2 linked regions of the Homo sapiens genome follow. The protein of the gene in region 1 interacts with the protein of each later gene in a biochemical or structural test. Each region holds a gene or a part of one and is shown on either strand. Other genes may lie near its edges.

Region 1 (12,720 bases):
GGCTGGAGTACAGTGGCATGATCTCAGCTCACTGCAACCTCCGCCTCCCAGGTTCAAGCAATTCTCCTGCCTTAGCCTCCTGAGTAGCTGGGATTACAGGCGCTTCCCACTAAGCCTGGCTAATTTTTCTATTTTTAGTAGAGACGGGGTTTCACCATGTTAGTCAGGCTGGTCTTGAACTCCTGATCTCAGGTGATCCGCCTGCCTCGGCCTCTCAAAGTGCTGGGATTACAGGCGTGAGCCACTGCACCAGGCTTTTTTTATTTTTTGTAGAGATGAGGGTCTCACTATGTTGCCCAGGCTGGGACTGATTTGTGTTTTTTTTTTTAAAGTAGATATTAAACATACATCTCAGATGACAAGTGGAATTTATTCCCAAAGTGCAAGGATGGTTTAACAAAAATCAATTAAGGTAATATGCCACATTACTAGAATGAAGGAGAAAAACAATGATCATCCCAACTGATGCAGAAAAAGCATTTAACAAAATTCAAGATAACTTTTTGATTAAAAAATACTCAATGAAATAGGAATAGAAGGCAATATCCTCAACATAATAAAGGGGTATATATGAAAATCTCACAGCTTACATCACACTTGATGGTGAAAGACTAAAAGCTTTTCCCCTAAAATCAGGAACAAGACAAGGATGCCACTTCTATTTAATCCAGTACTGAAAAGTTTTAGCCAGAGAAATTAAGCAAGAACCTTCTCACTGCCTCATTTACCCTTTCTCTCCAGGCATCTCAACTGGACAGGAAGTAGTAAAATTATTTCCGTTCCTAGATGACATGATCTTACATGTAGAAAACCCTAAAGATTACACACACACACAGCTAATAAATGAATTCAACAAAGTTGTAGGATGCAAAATGAACATGCAAAAATCAGTTGCATTTCTATTGTTCACTGACAGTGAACAATCTAAAAACAAAATTAGGAAAACATTCCATTTATAATAGCATCAAAAAGAATAAAATACTTAGGAATAAATTTAAGCAAGGGAGACAAAAGACATAAACTGAAACATTGCTGAAACAAATTAAAGACGTAAAATAAAGGGAAAGAAATCCCACTTTCCCACTTTCATGGATTGGAAGATGATATTCTTTTTTTTTTTTCTTTTTTTTAGACAGAGTCTTGCTCTGTCACCCAGGCTGGAGTGCAGTGGCACAATCTCGGTTCACTGCAATCTCCGCCTCCCAGGTTCAAGCGATTCTCCTGTATCAGCCTCCTGAGTAACTGGGATTACAGGTGTATGCCACCACACCTGGATAATTTTTGTATTGTTAGTAGAGACAGGGTTTCACCATGTTGGCCAGGCTGGGAAGACAATATTCTTTAAATGACAACGTTATCCAAAGCTATCTACAAACGCAATCCATATCAAAATGCAATGCAATCCCTATCAAAATTCTAACAGCTGGCCAGGCACGGTGGCCCATGCCTGTAAACCCAGCACTTTGGGAGGTCAAGTGGGGAGGACTGCTTGAGCCCTGGAGTCCTCAAGACCAGCCTGGGCAACACAGTGAGACTCCATCTCTACAAAAAATTTTTTAATTAGCCAGGCACAGTAGTACATTCCTGTAGTCCCACCTACTTAGCAGGCTGAGGTGGGAGGATCACTTGAGCCTGGGAGCTCAAGGCTGTAGTGAGCAGTGACTGCGCCAATGCATTCCAGCCTAGGTGACAGAGCAAGACTCCGTCTCAAAAAAAAAAAAAGAATATTGTCTTCCAATCCATGAACGTGGGATTTCTTTCCATTTACTTGTTTAAAAAAACAAAAAAAAAAAAGCTGGGTGCAGTGGCCCACGCCTGTAATCCCACCACTTTGGGAGGCCAAGGCAGGTGGGTCATGAGGTCAAGAGATCGAGACCATCTTGGCCAACATGGTGAAACCCCGTCTCTACTAAAAATACAAAAATTAGCTGGGCGTGGTGGCAGGTGCCTGTAATATCAACTACTCAGGAGGCTGAGGCAGGAGAATCGCTTGAACCCAGGAGGTGGAGTTTGCAGTGAGCCAAGATTGCGTCACTGCACTCCAGCCTGACAACAGAGTGAGACTGTCTTAAAAACCAAAAAAAAAAAAAAAAAAAAAGAAAGAAATTCTCCCCATTACTTTGTCCAAAGAAAAAAGTGGGAACCCTGAATAGCCAAAACAAACTTGAAAAACAAGAACTAAGTTGAGGACTCACACTTCCTGATTTCAAAACTTACTATAAAGCTACAGTAAGCAGAACAATGTGGTACTGGCATAAGGTCAGACATATAAAACAATAGAGAGCCCAGATCTTCTGTAGTTCATCAGTATGATACCTGGGTGTTTCACACACATGTGAGATGAGTCATTCTTGAACCTTGTTATGATGTCAGCACTACCCATCTAACCTGAAAAAAAGAAAAGAAGAAGAAAAAAGAACCCAAAAATAAACTCTCACAAATATAATCAACTGATTTTTGACAAAGATGCCATGACCAGTCACTGGGGAAAGGACAGTCTCTTCAACAAATGCTACTGGGAAAACTGGATAGTTACACGCAAAAGTGAAGTTGGACTCTTATACACAAAAATTAACTCAAAATAGATCAAATAAATGAAAAAAGAAGAGCTAAAACTGTAAAGCCCTTAGAAGAAAATATAAGAAAAAGATCTTCATGATGCTGAGTTTAGCAAGGATTGAAAAGTATAGGCAACAAAAGAAAAAAATTGATAAACTGGAATTCATAAAAATTAAAAACTTTTGGCCGGGCGTGGTGGCTCACGCCTTAATCCTAGCACTTTGGGAAGCCAAGGCAAGCGGACTGCTTGAGCTCAGAAGTTTGAGACCAGCCTGGACAACATGGCAAGACCCCATATCTTAAAAAAAAATAAATACAAAAAAAATTAGCCAGGCATGGTGGTGTGCACCTGTAGTTTCAGCTACTTGAGAGGCTGAGGTGGGAGGACTGCTTGAGTCCAGGAAGTGGAGGCTGCAATGAGCCAACACTGTAGCACTGCACTCCACCCTGGGTGACTGAGGGAGACTCTGTCTTAAAAAAGAAAAAAAAAAAAAAGTTAAAAATTGTGCAAATCACACAATAAAGAGAGTGAAATGCTAACCAACAGAATGGGAGAAACTATTCACAAATCATATATCTAACAAGGGTTTAATATCCAGAATTTGTAAAGAATTCCTACAACTCAACAATAACAACAAAATAACAATTAATAACTCAAAGTGAGAAAAGGACTTGAATGAACATTTCTCTAAAGAAGATATACAGGCTCGGTGGGGTGGCTCATGCCTGTAATCCCACCACTTTGGAAGGCTGAGGTGGATGGGTCACTTGAGCTCAGGAGTTCAAGGCCAGCCTAGGCAACATGGTGAAACCCCATCTCCACAAAAAATATGAATATAAGCCAGGCATGGGGGCACATGCCTGCAGTCCCAGCTACTTGGAAGACTGAGGTGGGAGGATCACTTGGGACCAGAGGCTTGAGGCTGCAGTCAACTGTGATTGCGCCACTGCAGTCTGGGCAACAGAGCAAGAAGACCCCGTCTCAAGAAAAAGAAAAAGAAAAAAAAACCCAAACAACAACAAAAAAGAAGATATACAAATGGCCAATCAACATATGAAAAATTGCTCAACATCAATATTCCTTAGAAAATACAAATTGAAATCACAATGAGATACCAATTCCCACCCACTGGCCCTTGGGTACATGTGCACAACATACAGGTTTGTTACATATGCATACATGTGCCATGTTGGTGTGCTGCACCCGTTAACTCGTCATTTACATTAGGTTTATCTCCTAATGCTATCCCTCCCCCCTCCCCCCATCCCCCGGCAGGCCCTGGTGAGTGATGTTCCCATGTCCAGGTGTTCTCATTGTTCAATTCCCACCTATGAGTGAGAACATGCGGTGTTTGGTTTTCTGTCCTTGCGATAGTTTGCTCAGAATGATGGTTTCCAGCTTCATCCATGTACCTATAAAGGACATGAACTCACCTTTTTTTATGGCTGCATAGTATTCCATGGTGTATATGTGCCACATTTTCTTAATCCAGTCTATCATTGATGGACATTTGGGTTGGTTCCAAGTCTTTGCTATTGTGAATAGTGCCGTAATAAACATACGTGTGCATGTGCCTTTATAGCAGCATGATTTATAATCCTTTGGGTATATGCCCAGTAATGGGATGGCTGGGTCAAATGGTATTTCTAGTTCTAGATCCTTGAGGAATCGCCACACTGTCTTCCACAATGGTTGAACTAGTTTACAGTCCCACCAACAGTGTAAAAGGGTTCCTATTTCTCCACATCCTCTCCAGCACCTGTTGTTTCCTGACTTTTTAATGATCCCCATTCTAACTGGTGTGAGGGTATCTCATTGTGGTTTTGATTTGCATTTCTCTGATGGCCAGTGACGACAAGCATTTTTTCATGTGTCTGTTGGCTGCATAAATGTCTTCTTTTGAGAAGTGTCTGTTCATATGCTTCACCCACTTTTTGATAGGGTTGTTTGATTTTTTTCTTGTAAATCTGTTTAAGTTCTTTGTAGATTCTGGATATTAGCCCTTTGTCAGATGGGTAGATTGTAAAAATTTTCTCCCACTCTGTAGGTTGCCTGTTCAGTCTGATGGTAGTTTCTTTTGCTGTGTAGAAGCTCTTTAGTTTAATTAGATCCCATTTGTCAATTTTGGCTTTTGTTGCCATTGCTTTTGGTGTTTTAGTCATGAAGTCCTTGCCCATGCCTATGGCCTGAATGGTATTGCCTAGGTTTTCTTCTAGGGTTTTTATGGTTTTAGGTCTAACATTTAAGTCTTTAATCCATCTTGAATTGATTTTTGTATAAGGTGTAAGGAAGGGATCCAGTTTCAGCTTTCTACATATGGCTCCTGGATCGATAGTTTCTATGTAGAATAATGAAAACATTCTGGAAATGGATAGTGATGATGGTTGCATAACAATGTGAATACATTTAATGTCACTAAATAGTACACTTAAAAATGGTTAAAATGGGCCAGGCACGTTGGCTCACACCTGCAATCCCAGCACTTGGGGATGCCAAGGTGGGCAGATCACTTGAGGTCAGGAGTTCAAGACCAGCCTGGCCAACATGGTGAAACCCTATCTCTACAAAAAATACAAAAATTAGCCGGGTGTGGTGGCACATGCCTGTAGTCCCAGCTACTTGGTAAGCTGAGACAGAAGAATCGCTTGAACCGGGAGGCAAAGGTTGCGGTGAGCAGAGACCACGCCGTTGCATTCCAGCTTGAGTGACAAGGAGACTCCGTCTCAAAAAAAAAATCACCAAATAATTTTTGTTTGTTTGTTTTGAGAGTCTTGTTCGGTCACCCAGGCTGGAGTGCTGTGACACGATCCTGGCTCACTGCAACCTTTACCTCTGGGTCCAAACAATTCTTCCTCAGCTTCCCAAGTAGCTAGAATTACAGGTGCGTGCCACCATGACCCTGCTAATTTTTGTATTTTTAGTACAGGCAAGGTTTCACCATGTTGGCCAAGCTGGTCTTGAACTTCTGACCTCAAGTGATCCACCCACCTTGGCCTCCCAAAGTGCTGGGATTACAGGCATGAGCCACTGCACCCAGCCACCAAATAATTTTAAAAGTATAATGAGAAGAGGCTTGCCTGCCACCATGTAAGACATGCCTTTGCTCCTCTTTCACCTTCTGCCATGATTGTGAGGCCTCCCCAGCCATGTGGAACTTATATTCATTGCTCAACAAGGAAGAGACTTGCAAGGCTATTACCCTGGGCAGTTGGCAAGACTCCATTTTGATCATAGTGCAAAGAGAGCTCTCAGATTGGAACAAGAAATTAGCCACAGATTCACTGAATCCTTGACCTCTTAGTTCACTGCCACAGCTCTACTATTGTGAAGAGAGAAGCGGTTTTGAAAGAAATGCTTTTAAATTAAAATAACCAAGGCATTCGAACAAAATATCGTTTGGCATTCTTAGGTAACTCTTTTAGACTAATGTAATGGTAGCAAAACTACTTTTAAGTGTGTATACAGATGGCTCTAATCCTAAAATATTTACATGCTGCAAATTATTTTCAGATTAAGTTGGTCAGCTTACAACAGGGGATCAAGAGCTAGCCTTAAGAGAACTTGTTTTTTACCCCATTACCAGTCTTATTGCTGATGCTGGCAAACCATCATACATTTAGGCCAATGGTTATATGTAGGCTCAGGTAAGAAGATTACTGCATCTGCTCAGTAAGTGCATCACCGTTGGGAAAAATAAAAAAGAACCTAGGGGACATAGCCAATGAGGAAGAAGACTGGCACTAGAGACCCTAAAGGGGCTTGGGATGGAGAAACCCAGGTGTAGCATAGGGCTATAGTGAGATGTGGGACTGGTAAAAAGGATTAAGTGAACATCTGTACACAGGAGTTAACACCCTTATCTGGGCAAGAAGAAAGCCTGACAACTAGGCATCAGCTCCTCAGGCAGAAAGCTAAAGGGTCTTCTCTAAGGACAGGAAAGGATCCCAAAGAAAAGAACCTTTGCGGGGCGCAGTGGCTCACGCCTATAATCCCAACACTTTGGGAGGCCGAGGCAGGCAGATCACCGGAGGTCAGGAGTTCAAGACTAGCCTGGCCAACATGGTGAAATCCCATCTACTAAAAGTACAAAAACTAGCCAGGTGTGGTGGCAGGTGCCTGTAATCCCAGCTACTTGGGAGGCTGAGGCAGGAGAGTCGCTTGAACCCAGGGGGGCGAAGGTTGCAGTGAGCCGAGATCGCACCACTGCACTCCAGCCTGGGCGACAAGAGCAAGACTCTGTTTCAAGAAAAAAACAAAAAAACCTTACCAGTTCCCCAGCATACTAGTGGGCTCCCTCCTCATTTACCCCAAAGTAACACCTATCAATTAATAAACTTCTCCCCCCAAAAAAAAGTATAATGAGGATTAAAGGATATAGATGAAACAAGAGTGTCCCCAAGTTAATGACTAAGTGACAGACATAACTGAGTGATAGGTACACAAGGGCTTATTGCTCTCTATTTGGATGTATATTTGAGTTTTACTATAATAAATATTAAAAAACAAACAAGTCTTCAAAATGTGCAAAGCTTTTCAAGAATTTATCCCCTTACAAATTTTAGCAAAAATGAGTACAGAAGAGGAGGCAGGGAAAGGCAAGGCTCAGAGGGATTCAACAGTATAAAAAATAAAATAAAATAAGAATAAGAACAAAGATTTGGCTATAAGAATACAATCACAGTAATATTTAGAACGGGAAGGAAATGTGTTATGTATTTTATAGTAAAACCTGAGACAAAGAGCAGAAACCATTAAAAACAATCTAGACGATTAAAACACTTAAGCACAAGCTGGAAGACCCTGGATACAAACTTGACTCTGAGCTTCCTAGTGGCCAAGGCAGAGAGAGGAAAACATCAACATAGTTCTAGTATACTTAGAGGTATACTACAGGCGCATGCCACCACACCTGGCTAACTTTTGTATTTATAGTGGAGACGGGGTTTCACACATGTTGGTCAGGCTGGTCTCGAACTCCTGACCTCAGGTGATCCACCCTCCTCAGCCTCCCAAAGTGCTGAGATTACAGGCATGAGCCACTGTGCCTGGCCAACACCTTGTATATTTTATGCTTTCTGAAAATGCTAAATATCAAATAAGCCACTGGTTCCCAAATGTTTTGATCATGAATGCCCAACAACAAAAATTCAAGTATATGCTCCCAATACATGTACACTTACATATAAATTATATATGTACTACAGTGATAATACAGTGTACATTATAAAGTACATAATAAAAATTATTATGGTGGTTCATGCCTGTAATCCCAGCACTTTGGGAGGTTAAGGTGGGTGGATCACTTGAGGCCAGGAGTTTGAGACCAGCCTAACCAATATGGTGAAACCCCATCTCTACTAAAAATACAAAATTAGCCAGGTGTGGTGGTGCACAGCTGTAATCCCAGCTACTCGGGAGGCTGAGGCAGGAGACCAAGATTGCAGTAAACCAAGATAGCATCAATGCACTCCAGCCTGGGCAACAGATTGAGTGAGACTCCATCTCAAAAAAATAATAATAATAATTAAATGGGGCCGGGCGCGGTGGCTCACGCCTGTAATCCCAGCACTTTGGGAGGCCGAGGCGAGTGGATCATGAGGTCAGGAGATCGAGACCATCCTGGCTAACAAGGTGAAACCCCGTCTCTACTAAAAATACAAAAAAATTAGCCGGGCGCGGTGGCGGGCGCCTGTAGTCCCAGCTACTCGGGAGGCTGAGGCAGGAGAATGGCGTAAACCCGGGAAGCGGAGCTTGCAGTGAGCCGAGATTGCGCCACTGCAGTCCGCAGTCCGGCCTGGGCGACAGAGCGAGACTCCGTCTCAAAAAAAAAAAATAAAATAAAATAATAATAATAATAATAATAATTAAATGAAGCTGAAATAAACAGGAAAATTAGTTTTATTTTTTTCCTGAGATCCACGTGCATCTTTATGCTTACATACCAACTTTGGACCCCACTGCAAAGCTTCCTTATGATTTAGCATCCCTGCAACCATTCTAGGTTAGTGCCCTTGACTGCTTAAGCAGAAACTGTCAAATGGCAGTGGTCAAATTGCTGTCACCTTCTTGCTGAGTTCCACCATCCCCACACTAGAGTCAGTGACGCTGGCTTCCTCCCACCACCCCTACCACCTTCTTCCACTACCCTTACCTGCCAATGAGCAACAGAAAAGACTGTGGGCTGCGTGCAGTGGCTCACGCCTGTAATCCCAGCACTTTGGGAGGCCGAGGCGGGCGGATCACCTGAGATCGGGAGTCTGAGACCAGCCTGACCAATAGGGAGAAACCTCGCCTCTACTAAAAATACAAAATTAGCCAGGCGTGGTAGTGCATGCCTGTAATCCCAGCTACTCAGGAGGCTGAGGCAGGAGAATCGCTTGAACCTGGGAGGCGGAGGTTGCAGTGAGCTGAGATCACGCCATTGCACTCCAGCCTGGGCAAGAAGAGCGAAACTCCATCTCAAAAAAAAAAAAAAAAAAACAGACTGTGGAAGCAGGTACAAGAACAGCATAAAAGGATGGACTCTTTTGTCAGCCAAATCTCAGTTTGCACACAACACACTCCGTCTCAAATTCGCTAGGTGACCCAGGGCCAGTCAAATAACTTTTCTAAAACTCTCCGTAAAGGGGGTGATAACAGTGTTATCTCACCTGGTTATTATGAAAACTAAGTGAGATAAGCTAATATTACAGTACCTAGGACACTGCCTAAACAGCACAAGTGCTCGATATCACCCAGAATTATTACTCTGAGTGGCAAAAGACGACACCTGAACCTTGTTTCTTTAGCCAACTCAGTAAGGTAGCAAGTTCTAACGGAAGGAGCTCAGGTGGCAGAGGTGTGGCAGACCTGGTTTGAAGGATGATCCACCCTTGACAAGCTGGGTGACCTTGTAAGAACCCAGCTTCTCTATGAGGAGTCCTCTCATCTGTTCAACGGGGGTGATGACACAAACTGTATATGAAGTACCTGTCAGAGCCGGTAAAACACTGGCAACCACCAATGGTGAGAGTAAGCAAACAGCACATGAACCTGTCATTCCAGGATCCCTGAGGCACATTCACATGCATGGCTAGATTCTGAGAGAGAAAACATCCCTAAAGTCTACCACCAAATGTTAATATACATACCTGCAGTGAAGCCCACAGGCACACTTTTTCTTTCCTTTTTTAGTTTATTTAATTCCTGAATCGCATATGCCTCCATTTTTCTAGTAATAAACTTGTAGTAAACTTTTTACCCACCTAATGACAGTGACTGAGGGAACGGGGGAAGGGCCCCAAACCAGTGATTATAAAGTCCACGGAGATCTCTAGAGAGGGGGCGTTTTTGCCGCAACAGCAAAAGAAAAGAGAGAGCATTCAAGCCAGGCGCGGTGGCTCACGCCTGTAATCCCAGCACTTTGGGAGGCCGAAGCGGACGGATCATGAGGTCAGGAGATAGAGACGATCCTGGCTAACACGGTGAAACCCCGTCTCTACTAAAAATACAAAAAAGTAGCCGGGCATGGTGGCGGGCGCCTGTAGTCCCAGCTACTTGGGAGGCTGAGGCAGGAGAATCGCTTGAACCCGGCAGGCGGAGGGTGCAGTGAGCCGAGATGGCGCCACTGCACTCCAGCCTGGGCGACAGAGCGAGACTCCATCTCAAAAAAAAAAAGAAAGAAAGAAAAGAGAGAGCATTCAAACATCAGATCAGTTCATAATAAATTTAAAAAGCCTAATTCTTTCCATTTCAATTTATGACCAAAAGAATAAATATGGAAATATATTTATACAGTGTTAAATATATTTATATAGTGTTTTTTACATCATGTGCTCAGTGGGAATACTGCAAATGTGTAAAACACCTAAAATGTAAACTATATTAACACACATTTTAAAAGATACAGGTCTTGGCCGGGCACGGTGGTTCACGCCTGTAATACCAACACTTTGGGAGGCCAAGGCTTGTATAATGCTTGAGCCCAGGAGTTAAAGACCAGCCTGGGCAACACAGCAAGACCCCCATCTCTACAAAAAAATACAAAAATTAGCCGGGCGTGGTGGCACACACCTGCTGTCCCAGCTACTGGGGAGGCTGAGGTGGGAGGATCACCTGAGCCCAGGAAATCAAGGCTGCAGTGAGCCGAGATCGCGCCACTGCACTCCAGCCTGGGAGACAGAGTGAGACCCTGTCTCCAAACAAACAAACAAAAAACAAGTCTTTAGGCATCACTGAGGAACACCTAAAATGGATACAGCACTAACTAGACACCCTCGACCCTGACTCCCTAATAAAAGCGTCAGTCTTTTGCTCAATATCCTGACCTGACAGCAAACCAATAAAGACACGGCATAACCAAACTCCACAAATTTTTGGCCAAATAAAAGAAACACACGCAACGCTAACATTAAACCTTTTCTATGGCCGCTTCACGATAAGTATTACAAAATCCCCAGAAAGAGTTTATTCACCTAGCTCCGACTGTCGCCATACAAGGTGGAGCAGTGAGTGACCCGAACCAGGGGCTGACCCCTGCCAGAGCCCCCACAGCGACTCACTGCCCCCCCCTCCGCATTCCCATCTGCACAACTTTCTGTGATTCAAACAGTCCGGAGCCAGGGCTCCCTGCAACTAACGCTATCGTGACATTATAAGCCGGTTAAATACTGAGGTCATAAACCCACTCAGAAGTAAACAGAAGCAACATTAGTGAGCAAAGTTGAGGTTTAAGCAATACGGAAAACTAGAAACCAAGCAAAACCAGCAAAGCAACTAGCGTTGTCTCTCAATAAGATCTTCCAAAAGAGGCAAAGTGGAGAACCTGCTCTCCCCCGCACTCCGGAAAACCCAAACAGCACCAAAGCAGGTTCTACAACAGCTTCCCGGAGCAACTAGGCCAGGGGATGCGACGCCGCGCATCTCCCCCCGTCACACCAGGGGCCCGCGGAGGTCTGGTGGGGACGCGGAGCTCCAGGGGCCGGCCGGTGCAGGGACACGGCCGGGTTGGGGGTGGGGACGCGCGGCCCTGCCTCCTTGCCGGCCTGCGGTCTCCAGGGCCGGCCCGCACGGCTGCTGGACAGCGCCATGCCCACGCACCCCCGAACCTAGCGGCCCCCATTCCGGAACTCCCAGCTCCACGCGGCTGGGGTCGAGCTGGGGCCCGCGGGCAGGCGCCCTGAGCACCCGCGTGACGGTACCTGTGGTGGCAGCACCTCCCAAGCTGCGGCGGCGGCGGCGGCGGCGACGGGGGCGGCAGCAGGGGCGGAGCGCGGCGTGCGCGCTCTCGGCCCGCAGTCCGGTGCGTGGCGCCCTCCCTCTCTCTCCTGGCCGCCGGGTGCCCGCCCCTTCACCTCTCACCTCCTACCTTTACCCTCCCGCCCCGCCGCCCTCCGCACGTGCGCCCAGCGGCGTGCGCATGCGTAGTCGAACCACATTCGCGTCTCCCGTTCGCCCTCTGGTGGACACCGGAGGGAAGTATGGACGGCCGGGCCGGGCCGGGCCGGGCGGAGCGTGAAGCCGGGTTAGGGCCCGCCGGGTTTGGGCCCACCGGCTCTCATCGGTCATCAAGAACTTGCAGAAAGCCGGGCACGGTGGCTCGCGGTTGTAATCCCAACACTGTGGGAGTCCAAGGCGCGAAGATCGCTTGAGCCGAGGAGTTAGAGACCAACTTGGGCAACGTAGGAGACCTCCGTCTCCACAAGTAAAATTAATTAGCCGGCTGTGGTGGCGCGCACCTGTGGTCCCAGCTACTCAGGAGGCTGAGGTAGGAGGATCACCTGAGCCCGGGAGGTCGAGGCCACAGTGAGACAAAAAACAAAAAACCCACCCTGCACAAGATGCTCATGTTCCCTGTTTTATAATGGCAAAAAATTAGAAGCAGCTGGGCCGAGATACACTGCAAATGCAGATGAGAAGAATAAATAATGTCCATAAAACTAGTTTCCCTATAGACATTTAAAAGCATAAGTTGACATTTAACCATTTTCCACAGGGAACAGGTATTTGTTATAATAGCAACAGCTACGTTCACTGTTTACTAGGTGTCAGTTGCGGAGCTGGTATTGTACATGTCCTCGCATTTGGCCCTCCTGAAAATCCGAGGTAGGTCTTGTTACAGGGCCTCACAGAAGGGGAAGGGGAGGCTGCCTCCCCTCGAGGGAAACACAGGTCCCCACCTG
Region 2 (12,720 bases), on another chromosome or scaffold:
CAGCTATGGCAAATGATCTGTAAAATGAAGTCTGTCAATGCCACTAACCAGTCCCCTTTCCTCTCCCTTCTTGGTGCTTTTAATTCTGACTTAATGTCTATAGGTACAGAAGTATCTTGTTTCTATAACCTACATGCTGCAGGTGGCAGAGTGGAAAGAGAAAAAAGGATACCAAGAACAGCGGGATCCACTGCATCCACCTAGACTTGTGATGTGAGGAAAATACCCCCTTTTTGTTTAAACTACTATTAGCTGCTTGTATCTGAAAGCATTTCTAAACGACATAGCAATGAAAGAGTAGATGATCTCAAATGTACAGCTTGGGTCTAATATTAAAGTTCTAATTTTAAATAATCTCATTGTCCAGAGAAGGATATCTTTCCACAGCATCTTTGACACATGGCTATCCAGATAATGATACACAATCTAAAGGCATCATTCCAAAAGTTACCACAGCTTTACCAATTCCCATTTTTTACATGCATTTTCATTCGGTTCAAAAGCAGATTCTGTTAAATTCAAGTCACAAATTGAATTAAAATGAATATATCCTAGGGAAAGGAAACACTGCACTTAAAAAGCCACATTGGGCCAGGCACAGTAGCTCGCGTGTTCGAGACCAGCTTGGGCAACATGGCAAAACCCCATCTCTACAAAATTAGCTGGGTGTGGTGGCGTATGCCTGGTAGTCCCAGCTACTTGTGGGGCTGAGATGGGAGGATCGCTTGAGCCCAGGAGGTCAAGGCTGCCGTGAGCTGAGATCATGCCCAGCCTGGGTGATAAAGTGAGACCCTGTGTCAAAAAAAAAAAAAAAGGGCAAGCCACGTCTTACATACATAATTTTTAAATGAAAAAATTTAACAACACCTTGGTTTAGGAAGGTCAGAAGGGCTGAATACCAGGGTATTCTTCATGCATCTTCCTTTCCCTTCCCCATCTTTCAGCCTAACTTACTAATCTGAAAATGAGAAACACTGTTTACGTGCAGGAAAGATGTCTTCTGCAAAAGTCACTAATAGGGGCTAACTTGGGGAAACCAGTGCACTGCTGCAAACCATCCTTTTTTCTAAGTAAGTGGGGCTCTGGCTAAAAAAACAACTGTCCCAAGGTTGAACTAGTATAAAAGAGAAAATAGTGGCCAACATATCCTCAAAACAGACCCTTCCATTTTGCCCTGTATCTAATTCACATTAAAGACAACTATTGCAGATGTATAAAATATATCAATAAATGTTGACTGATCATGGCAAGGAACCAAGCTAGACAAGGCAGATGGTTGGGTGGCTAATTGGGAATGGATGAGAAGAAAGGGTTCAAAGAGGTGCTACAAAAAGCCACAATAAATTAGCAAACTTCCAGTTTTTCTATTAGGCAATATCACCTCTAACCTTCATGTAAATAATAACTTAATTGGGAATGCACTGATTTTCAAACATGTTTTGGTGAACTTTTCATTCAACCTACCAGTAATGGTTGGGTTGTTGTTCGCTACAGCCAGGGATCCTGTGTGGTTTCGGATGAGATTGTCTTGAGTCGATGGAAGGCCTGGAGATGACCACGTTAGAGTACTGTATCCTGAAAGACTTTGCTGCTGGTGGTGCTGTTGTGATGGTAGAGGTGGAAGTGGCGATGGATGGCTGATAGCTGTATTTTGACCAGAGAATGAATTATCTTTAACTGGCCTAACAGTCGGAGCATTCTGTGAGGTAAACATTTGCCCATATGTATCACCAGCAGGCAGAGAGGGATATGAAACACTAGGATACGCGGCATTAGAAACAGTTGACATAGCATAATGACCACAAGTAGAGGGAAATCCCTGAGACGCAACAGAAGAGCTGGCAGAGTACATGGCTGGACTATTGTAGTGATTCACAAAAGAGGAGTATGGTTGGGAGGCACTCGTATGCAAATGGGATGCTGACGATGCAGCACCTTGGAAAGATCCTAGAGTGGATCCCACAATATGAGGGGCAGGAGGACCCCTGCTGTACAACTGCTGTGCTCCTGGTTGCTGGTTCACTGTGTTAGGAGTCACATTTTGTGTTGGTACTGTATAGAGAGCAGAGTAGTAATCACCACACTGGGTATCCAATGGCAATGAGGTCATTTTCCCAGGTCCTTGAGAGTAATGTCCTGAGGGAGCAATATAGTTTTGATGATGCAATCCATATCCAGATGGAACCTGCATTTGATTCTGGGCTGGACCTGAAAAAGCAAGTATTTACAGGTATTTGTAAAGAGATAACTAATTTTTAAAAATAGCCCCCATTTAAATATTGAAGCAATTAACTTTCTTTTCCATAATCCCAACTTATTACAAAAGGTATACACTGTTATAGACCCATTATGGTAGCCTGCCTCCAACATGGCCCCCAATGATCCCCACCTCCTGTTATTCACACCCTTGTAGTCCTCCCTCACAATGTACCAGGACTGGTCTGTATGAACAGTAGCATACGGCAAAGGTGATGATATGTCACTTCCATGTTAGCCCAGTCTTGAGCTCTGGCTCTCTTTCTCTCAGATACCCCAGTCTGAAAGAAGCTAACCTGCCAAGCCGTGAACAGCCCTATGAAGAAGCCCATGCAAGGAGGAACTTAACTCTCTGGCCAACAGCCAAAGAGAAACTAAGATCTGCCAACAACCACGACTGAGCTTTCAGGCAGATCCTCCAAACTCAGTAGAATCTTGAGATAACTATAGCCCAGCCAACAGGTTATCTCATGAGAGACCCTGAGCCAGAACCACCTAGCTAGGCTGCTCCCAAGTTTATCTTCCTGAGAAACTGTGAAATAAATAGTTGTTGTTTTACAAGTTGTTAAGCTTAGGGGGTATTTTGTTATGCAGCTATCAGTAACTAATATACCCATCCTGGAAGAAGTTTAAACTTTGAGACAGGGTCTCGCTCTGACCCCAGGCTCTATAGAGTGTGATGGCTATAGAGCGCGATGGCATGATCATGGTTCACTACAGCCTTGTTCTCCTGGGCTCAAGCAATCTTCTCACCTCAGCCTCCCGAGCAGCTGGGACCACAGGCGTGCACCATGGTGACCAGCTAATTTTTACTTATTTATTTTTTACAGAGACAGGCTCTCACTGTGTTGCCCAGGCTGGTCTCCCATACACCACGGCCCAGCCAATGTTTCTAAATTTATTTTCTTGTAGAGACAGGGTCTCACTGTGTGCCCAGGCTGGTCTTAAACTCCTAGAGTCAAGTGACTCTCCTCCCTCAACCTCCCAAAATGCTGGGATTATAGGCATGAGCCACTGCACACAGCTAAAACTTTTTTCTCAGTTTTTATTTTTCCTAACTAGAAAAGTAACAATATACCCACTGTAGAAAAAATTCAAACAATAAAGAGTATGAATTAAAAATCTCTGCCTAGTAGCTTATATCCTATTTCCCAGATATAGTTACAGTTAATGCTTATGCATCCTCTGTATATCCATGTATCTATGTAATGCATATGTAAGCATGTATATAATTTACTTGATTTTTTAAACACACAAAAAGGATATTACAGTTCCGCAACTTGCTTTTACTTAATATATGCTGAATATCCTTAAGTATTAGCATATATAAATCCTCATTATTCTTTTAAAAATTTACATATAGTACTTTATTGTAGAGATATAACATTATTCACCAAATCTCCATTGATGAATATCTTGGGGTTGAACTAATCTATATTTATGAGGTCAACTTTTATGATGAAGCTATAAGACAAATTTCTAGAAGTCAAACTGGAAGTTCAAAAGGTTTATGTTTTTAAAATTGACATTATTGGCAAATATCTCTTAAAAGGTCTATCAATTTATACCTCCCATCAATAATGCTTCATATTGCCTCATTGTCCCAATACTGACTATATATTAATCTCTGCCAATCTGAAAAGTGAGAAACACTTTAGTTTACAGTAGTTAACTTTGAATGATGCTGAGACTCTCATTTGGGTGTCTTTCTCTGCTGTTTGCTTTTTCTGTAGCATTGCGATTTCCTTAATGATTTCTAGCTGTTCTCACACAGTAGAAAATTAGCCTAATGTTATGTGCTGTAAGTATTTCCCCCAGGTTACTGTTATGTTTTCACTTTGTTCATGGTATCTTTTGCTATAGTTTCTTGATTATGTAGTAAAATTCTTTTTTTATGCTTGACAGATTTTTAAATCATACTTAGTAGAGGTTTCTTCATTTCAAGATTATAAAACTATAAAACCATGTTTTACTCTAGTGTTTTATACTTTCATCTTTATATATCTTTGATAAGTATAGCATATATTTATTTTATTAATACCAACAAAACATTAATCCTAATATTAGTCTTATTAATATTAATATATTAATATATTACATTATATGCCATTCACTGTTCTAAATGCTTTACATATATTAACTTCTTTAATCCTCTAAAGTAAATAGTATTATTATACCCATTTATCAATAAGTGAGCCACAAAAGTCAAGATGTTTAACACAGTTACATGCTTAGGAACTAAATGGGCCGGAATTTGAATCAGGCAATCTGGCTCAAGTTTATGCTCTTAACCAATGATCTGCTGTCCTTTGCTACAAATGGCCAATTGTCCCAAAAACAGAATTCTAGTTTTAGTTCCAATTACTTTTCTTTGGGTTTTGGGCAAATCTTAATTATCTTGGAATCTAATTTTTCTGTCTTGTGGAAGGAAACAGGTATCTGTGCCATATCTCAAATCAAAGGATAATTTAATAGAAAATTGACAAGATGTTTTAGCTCCACTGACACAAGTACACAAAGGAAGTACCACTACACTCCTTGCCATAATAATGTATTAAAATACTTGTTTATAAAAGAGATAAGAATAAAGCATACATTTTCTAATTGTTTTCAATTTGTACTAAGTAATGTAATGGAATCTTCATTTCTGGTCATGTAATATATATTCTACGGCCAGCATAAAAATAACTTACACAGTCAAGCTGTAAGGGAAAAATATCATCTACATTCCTCCTATAATTCCAAGAAGTATACAGAAAACCAAAATACTGATAACGCTATTTTACTAGGTGTATAATTTACTTTTCTTAGATTATTTTAGATGGTAATAATTCATCTGAAAGAATTTATTTACTTAAGGAAATAAAGTCTGTTAGGATCTTTCATTAACACGACAAAAGTAAAATGTTGTCCTCCTTTCTCCTATTTAAATATATTAAAAGATGGATCTGCTACCTTTCACTGTAGTGTCAGAAAACTCTACACTAGTAGAATTTATCAATGAAGAGCCAAGTCAGATTTAGAGAAATCTGTTCAAATATCTACCCACTTAGTGACTGATCTGGCATATCCATGCTACATGATCTGAAACGAGAAATAATCATTATGTCCCAACTATTCAAATGTCATTCTTTTAAAAATAACAGGAATGTCCTAGCTGCTGAAATTTATCAGAAGTGAGTTGCCCACCAGAATAAGTCTATTTACTTTCTAGCCTATCAAAGAAAGGTACTTACTCCAGGAAAACATGGGGGGTGGGAATATCTAATATATCTAATCATATGTGGATGCTTACTATTTCATACTTTATATCAAGACCTAAATGTTCCCAATGTATAAAAAAGTATCTGAAAGTAATTAAAGTTAATAAAGACAAATGTAAATCATTTTTAACATGTATTCAGTATTTTTAAATTACTGAGATATTTTGCTTTTTTGTACTATTTCTTCAAAAATCATTATGTATTTTACACTTATAGCACTTCTCAATCTGATCAACCATATGTCAAGTACTCAACAGCCATGTACAGCTAGTGGCCACCACACTGGATGGTGAAAGTCTACAGCATATGTCTATGATTCCAGTTGTTTCTGCCTCTCATGACAGATTAAATTTTCTGCCCTCAGTGTTTTCCCCCTATTCTTTTCTCGTGTACCTGCTTCAGTTTTCTTCCACATTTATTTAAGCTCTATGGCCTCCAAATATTGTATTCCAAGAAAGAACTATTTTTTCGAAGAGTAGAGCAACACAGTGCATTATGTACACATATACATATATTATGTTTAACTTATCTGAATAAAAAACTCTTGTAGTAATTATTCATCTGTGATCTTTCTTGGGATTCAAAATGATTCTGCAGCATGTATGAAAAGACTGCTGGTATTTTAATACTTCTAAAATAGACATAAAAGTTGTGGAGGAAAAAAATTTGTTACATATATAGTAAAATTTCTGAAAAATAACTTCAGAAGTACTTTTCTTATCACAAATGTGATACAGTCATTGTAAAAAAAAAAAATACAGAAAGTGATCAAATAAAAATCATCTTAATCTTCCCGAGATAACCTGCTAACATTCTGATGTATATCCACCCAGTATTTTCTTTTTGCATATATATGTATAATTTAGTTAAGCAAAAGTGGGATTATAATGTATCTTTTAAATGATTCCTTCATTTAGCATGATTTGAATATCTTTCCATCATTATTTTTAATGTCTGAATAGTATTCCATTACATGAATTTACCATATTTTAATCAATTTTCTATCTGCCATTTAGGTTTTCATTTTTTTAACATAAACCACCTAATAAATAGATCTGTAGGTAATTTTTGTGTTCATTCACTTTACTAAAAATAACTTCCTACCAGTTGCAATTGTTGGGTCAAGTCTCTAGTTGGCAGCTTAACTGTGCAGAAGTGGGAGATGTCAGGATGCCCAGCAATAAGGGAGGTAGAGATCAGAATCAAAGTGGGCCCAGAAGCCAAATTTGGCAGAGACTGCAAAGTCTTTATAAATCTATTCCAAAAATGAAAAGAAAATATATTCCAAAAATTGGGGGAAAATGTTACCAGTAAATGAACAGACAAGGGATATCGAGAGAAATGAAAACTATTTAAAAAATATTCAAAATAAAACAAATAAATATGCTAAATGGTCTCTACAGTATGGCAGAAGACTTAATGAACCTTGATTAAGTTGACCAACCTTGAAGATTGGTTAAGAAAATGATCTAAGAAACATAGAGAAAAAAAAAAGGCTGAAGAAAAATGAACAAAATTCGAGAGACCTGTGGGACAACACATAGCAGTCTAACACTTGTAATAATCAGTAAAGCATGTAGTGGGCTAAAGAGTGGCCCGCTAAAAGATTATGTACACATCCTAATCCCCCCAATCCTGTGAAAATTACATGGAAAAGTGTGATTATTGCCTTAAATGACAAAAGACATGCTTAGGTTAAAGATCTGGGGAAGAGGAGCCTCTCTTGGATTATTTGAGTGGGTTCTAAATGCAATCACATGTATCTTTATAAAATATACATACAGAAGAAAAGACATACACATAAACAGAGAGAAGGCAATGTGAAGTTGGAGCACAGAGTGATGTAGCCACAAGCCAAGGAATGCCAACAGTGAGACAAGTAGGAAGAGTCAATGAACATATTACTCCCCTATGAGCCTACAGAAGGAGCATGACTGCTATGGTTTAAATGTTTGCTCCTCCAAAACTCATCTTGAAATTTCATTGCCATTGTAACGGTATTAAGAGGCTGTGCCCTTATGAATGCATTAATGCCACTATCACAGAAGTGAGATTGATATAAAAGGGCAAGTTTGGTCCCCTTTTCTCTGCCCTCACCTTTGCCCTTCTGCCACGTGATGTTTTCTGCCATGTTATGACACAGCAAGAAGGCCCTAGCCAGGTGCTGGCACCTGATCTTGGATTTCCCAGCCTCCAGAATTGTGAGAAGTAAATTTCTGTTCATTATAAACTAGACAGTCTCAGGCATTCTGTCATAGTAGCACAAAATGGACTAAGAAGTAGACCTGCCAACACCTTAATTTCAGACTTCTAGACTTCATAACTGCAGAAAAATACATTTATGTTGTTTTAAGCTACCTACTTTGTGGCCATTTGTTTCAGCAGTCCTAAGACATTAATAAAGATATAGAACAGAAATTCTCAAAGTGTAGTATACAAAACTCCAGCAGTGCCAGAAACTCTTTGGGGAAAATCCATGAGTAAAAACTATTTTCATAACAGTACTAAGATGATATTTGCCTTTTTCACTGTGTTGACAATTATACTAATGATACAAAAGCAATGATGGCTGCAATGTGAACCCTGGGGCACAAACTGAAGCAATGGCACCAAGCAATACTAGCAGTTACTATATTCTTCACCACCATGCACTCACACATAATTTTATTAGATTAAAAATGATGGTCTCTGTGAAACATAAAGCACTTTTATTGCACACTGAAGTATAAATGTTATCTTCAGGAAAAGTATTTGTTTAACTTAGCTGTGAGCTCTACCATTGAACAAAACTTCAGCAAATAGAAAACAACAATATATTGAAAGTAAAATACATTATGACCAAATGGGGTTCATATTAGGAATACAAGGCTGACTGACCATTTGAAATACATTCAATGTGATTCAACATATTAACAGACTTAAGAAAAAGCCACATAATCACATCAATAGATACAGAAAATGCATTAGATAAAACTTGGCATCCATTCATGATAAAAACTCTCAATAAACTAGGAAGAGAAAGAAACTTTCTTAACCTGATAAGGACTATCTACTAAAAACCTATAGCAAACCATACTTAATGGTAAGGGACAGACAGACTGCTTTCGTCCTAACATTGATTACATGGAAGGCAAGATGTCCTCTCTCATCATTCCTATTCAATAATGTACAAGATGTAACAGCCCCTTCAGTGAGGCAAGAAAAATAAATAAATAGTAGATAGACTGGAAAGGAGTAAAAAAAAAAAAAAAAAAACAAAAAAAACCTGTCTTTATTTGCAGAATGACATGACTAAGTAGAAAATCCCAAAAAAATCTTCCAAAAAATGCCTGGAATTAATAAGTGAGTTTATCAAGGTCATAGAATATAAGGTCAATATACAAGAATCAATTATGTCTCTAAAGATCAGTAGTAAACAAGGGGAATTAAGATTTTAAAAAACAGTATCATTTATAATAGCACAAAAAGAAGTACTTAGATGTAAATCTAATGAAATATGTTCAGAACCTATATAAAGAAAACTACAAAACGCTGATGAAAAGAAGCAAGGATTTAAAGAAATGGAATGACATACTGTGTTCATGGATTAGAAGACTTGATATTATGATGTAACTTATCTCAATTTTGATCTTTAGATTCAATGCAATCATAATAAACAACACCAGCAGGTTTTTTTTGTAGATATCAACAAGCGGATTCTAAAATTTCTATAGTAATACAAAGTTACTAAAAACAAAGAAAAACTGAAAAGGAACAAAGTTGGAAGACTCACATTACCCAATTTTAAGGCTTACTTTATAGGTTACAACAATTTAAGAAGTGTGGTATTGGTGAAAGGACAGATACACAGAATGCAACAGTCTAGAAACAGACCCATAAAAATACAGTCAACTGATTTTTGACAAAGGTGCCAAGGCAATGCAATTGAGGAAAGATAGTTCTTTCAACAAATGGTGCTGGAATAACTAGATATCTACATGTGAAAAAAAGAAAAGAACCTCAACATATACCTCTGGTCTTAAACAAAAATTAAGTCAAAATGAATCACAGGCCGGGTGTGGTGGCTCATGCCTGTAATCCCAGCATTTTGGGAGGCCTAGGTGGGCGGATTACCTGAGGTCAGGGGTTGGAGACCAGCCTAGCCAACATGGTGAAACCCCATCTCTACAAAATTAGCCGGGCATGGTGGTGCATGCCTGAAATCTCAGCTACTCGGGAGGGCTGAGGCAGGAGACTCGCTTGAACCTGGGAGGCGGAGCTTGGAGTAAGCCAAGATCGCACCACCACACACCAGCCTGGGCGACAAAAGTGAAACTCCATCCCAAAAAAAAAAAGAATCCTAAATCTCATTGTAAATTAAACACTTAAGAGAAAATATGGATTTTTGAAGGGAATCTGGGATTGACAATGAATTCTTACTACAGAGGCCAAAGGGGCAGCTCCCCTTGGCCCTCTGAAGGTGTGCTGAAAAATCAACTTGCAAAAGGCAGATTAACAGGATAAAAGACATACAAATTTATTTAACGTGTAGACCCAAAGATAGAGGAAACTGTCCATTTTTATCCTTAGGTTCAACAAAGTACGGACAGCCATGCAGAAGTATAATTGGATAAAAAGGCTATAATCTAATGTGAACAGACTGAATGGGGAAACCCAGGAAGGCCTATCTGTTTAGATTCTTCTTGGCCTGAGCACACATTCTTTCTTTCTGCTTATGGGGCAGGACCCTCTCTGGAATAGGGGTCTTATGACCTACATTCAAACAATGTAGGTGAGATAATTTCTTTAAGGCCAGTTTTTACACATAGGACAGAGGGAAAGTTAGAATAATATTTTTAGGTTTTGTGGCTTGCTTTGGGGAAAAAAGGTTCCAGTTTCTATGACCTGCCTTGGGGAAGAGGGAATCTGGTTTCTAAGGCTAGCCTCAGGGGAGAACGGGACTGAGAGACAGGCAGGCAACAGAAAGTCAGAGAAAAACTTTTGCTTCTGAGGCTACTTCTGAGGCCTTCATTTTGGAGTTTTGTTTTATTTTTCTTTCTTTTTTTTTTTTTGGAGACAGAATCTTGCTCTGTCACCCAGGCTGGAGTGCAGTGGTGCGATCTCAGCTCACCCCAATCTCCACCTGAGGGTTCAAGTGATTCTCCTGCCTTACTTTCCCTAGTAGTTGGGAATACAGGCACCCACCACCATACCTGGCTAATTTTTGCATGTTTAGTAGAGACAGGGTTTCATCATGTTGGCCAGGCTGGTCTTGAACTCCTGGGCTCAGGCAATCCTCCTGCCTCGGCCTCCCTAAGTACTGGGATTATAGGCGAGAGCTACTGCACCCAGCCTGAGGTTTCATTTTCTGAGCCTCAACATTACCTATGATACTCAAAGCATAGTCAGCAACATAAAATATTGAGAAACTTGACTTTACCAAAATGAAAAAAAAAGTTTGCTCTGTGAAAGGAGCTAAGGATTAAAGACAGATAAGACACAGTTGGCCAGGTGTGCCTGAGGTCAGGAGTTCGAGACCAGCCTGGGCAACATGGAGAAACCCTGTCTCTACTAAAAATACAAAAATTAAACGGGTGTGGTGGCGCATGCCTGTAATCCCAGCTATTTGGGAGGCTGAGGCAGGAGAATCACTTGAACCCAGGAGGTGGAGGTTGCAGTGAGCTGAGATCACGCCATTGCACTCCAGCCTGGGGGACAAGAGCGAAACTCCGTCTGTTGCGGGAAGTCAGGGATACCGAACGGCAGGACCTGCTGAAGCCGTGACAGAAGAATATAAATTGTGAAGATCTCATAGACATTTATCACTTCCGCAATCAATACTCTTAATTTCCTATGCCCTCTTAATCCTTTCATCTTCGTAAGCTGAGGATGTATGTCGCCTCAGGACCCTGTGATGACTGCGTTAACTGCACAAATTGTTTGTAGAGCATATGTGTTTAAACAATATGAAATCTGGGCACCTTAAGAACAGGATAACAGCGATTTTCAGGAACAAGGGAGATAACCTTAAAGTCTGGCTGCCTGTGGGCCAGGCAGGCAGAGCCATATTTCTCTTATTACCGAACACGGGTAAGAGAAATATCGCTGAATTCTTTCCCCAGTAAGGAATATTAATAATTAACAGCCATTCGGGGGGGGGGGGGGGGGGGCCTAAAATGGCCACCCTAGGAATGTCTGCCTTATGCAGTTGCAGATAAGGGATGAAACATGCCCTGGCCTCCAGCAGCACCCCCAGGCTTGCTAGGATTAGGAAATTCCAGCCTGGTGAATTCTAGTCAGACTGGTTCTCTGCTCTTGAACCATGTTAAGATGTTTATAAATGACAATGCATGCACAGCGGGACATGGAAGTTCATTAGTGATTCTAGTTTTGCCCTGACCTTGAGATCTCACCCTGATCTTCTGCCTTGTGATCTTTTGTTGCCCTTAAAGCATGGGATCTCTGTGACCCACATCCTATTAGTACACTCCCTCCCCTTTGAAAATTGCTAATAAAAACTTGCTGGTTTTAGGGTTCAGGGGGCATCACAGAACCTGCCGACATGTGATGTCTCCCCCAGATACCCAGCTTTAAAATTTCTCTCTTTTGTACTCTTTCCCTTTATTTCTCAGACCAGCTGACACTTAGGGAAACAGAAAAGAACCTACGTGAAATAACGTTGAATTATTGGAGGCGGGTTCCCCCGATATCTGTCTAAAAAAATAAAATAAAATAAAAATAAGACACAGTCATGAAAATGTTCAGGAAAATTAAAAGAATAACACAGAAAGAAAATGTTTGCAAATCAGATACTCAATAAAAAACTTGTATCCAGAATACACTAAGAACTCTTAAAACTCAACTAAAAAAATAGACAACCCAACCAAAAATTGGTAAAACATCTGAAAAGATAATCACCACAAAAGATGTAAGAATGTAAAATATACATGAGAAGATGCTCATCATTAGTTATTAGGAAAATACAAATTAAATTACAACAAGACACTATCAAAAACCGAAAATATCAAATGCTGGCAAAGATGTGGTGCAAGAGAAACATTCACTCATTGTTGGAGGGAATACATACTAGTATAGCCACCCTGAAAAATAATCTGGCAATTTGTTATAAACTTAAGTATATATTTACTATGTAACCCAACAGTCCCACTGTAGTTATTTACCTAAGTGAGCTGCAAACTTGCGTTCACACAGAAGCCAGTAC

Evidence for each region.
Region 2: the proteins of SCAP (region 1) and SEC24B form a complex in vitro, tested with the Homo sapiens proteins (one study listed by BioGRID).

The regions. Positions count from the first base shown.
Region 1 is NC_000003.12:47,464,060-47,476,779, forward strand, and holds the start of SCAP (sterol regulatory element-binding protein cleavage-activating protein), read right to left. Parts: upstream 11,883-12,720; 5' UTR 11,740-11,882; exon of another isoform or gene 11,364-11,739; intron 7,457-11,363; exon of another isoform or gene 3,994-7,456; intron 2,390-3,993; exon of another isoform or gene 2,290-2,389; intron 1-2,289. UniProt on the Homo sapiens protein: Escort protein required for cholesterol as well as lipid homeostasis.
Region 2 is NC_000004.12:109,452,389-109,465,108, reverse strand, and holds part of SEC24B (protein transport protein Sec24B), read right to left. Parts: intron 2,209-12,720; coding exon 1,465-2,208; intron 1-1,464. UniProt on the Homo sapiens protein: Component of the coat protein complex II (COPII) which promotes the formation of transport vesicles from the endoplasmic reticulum (ER).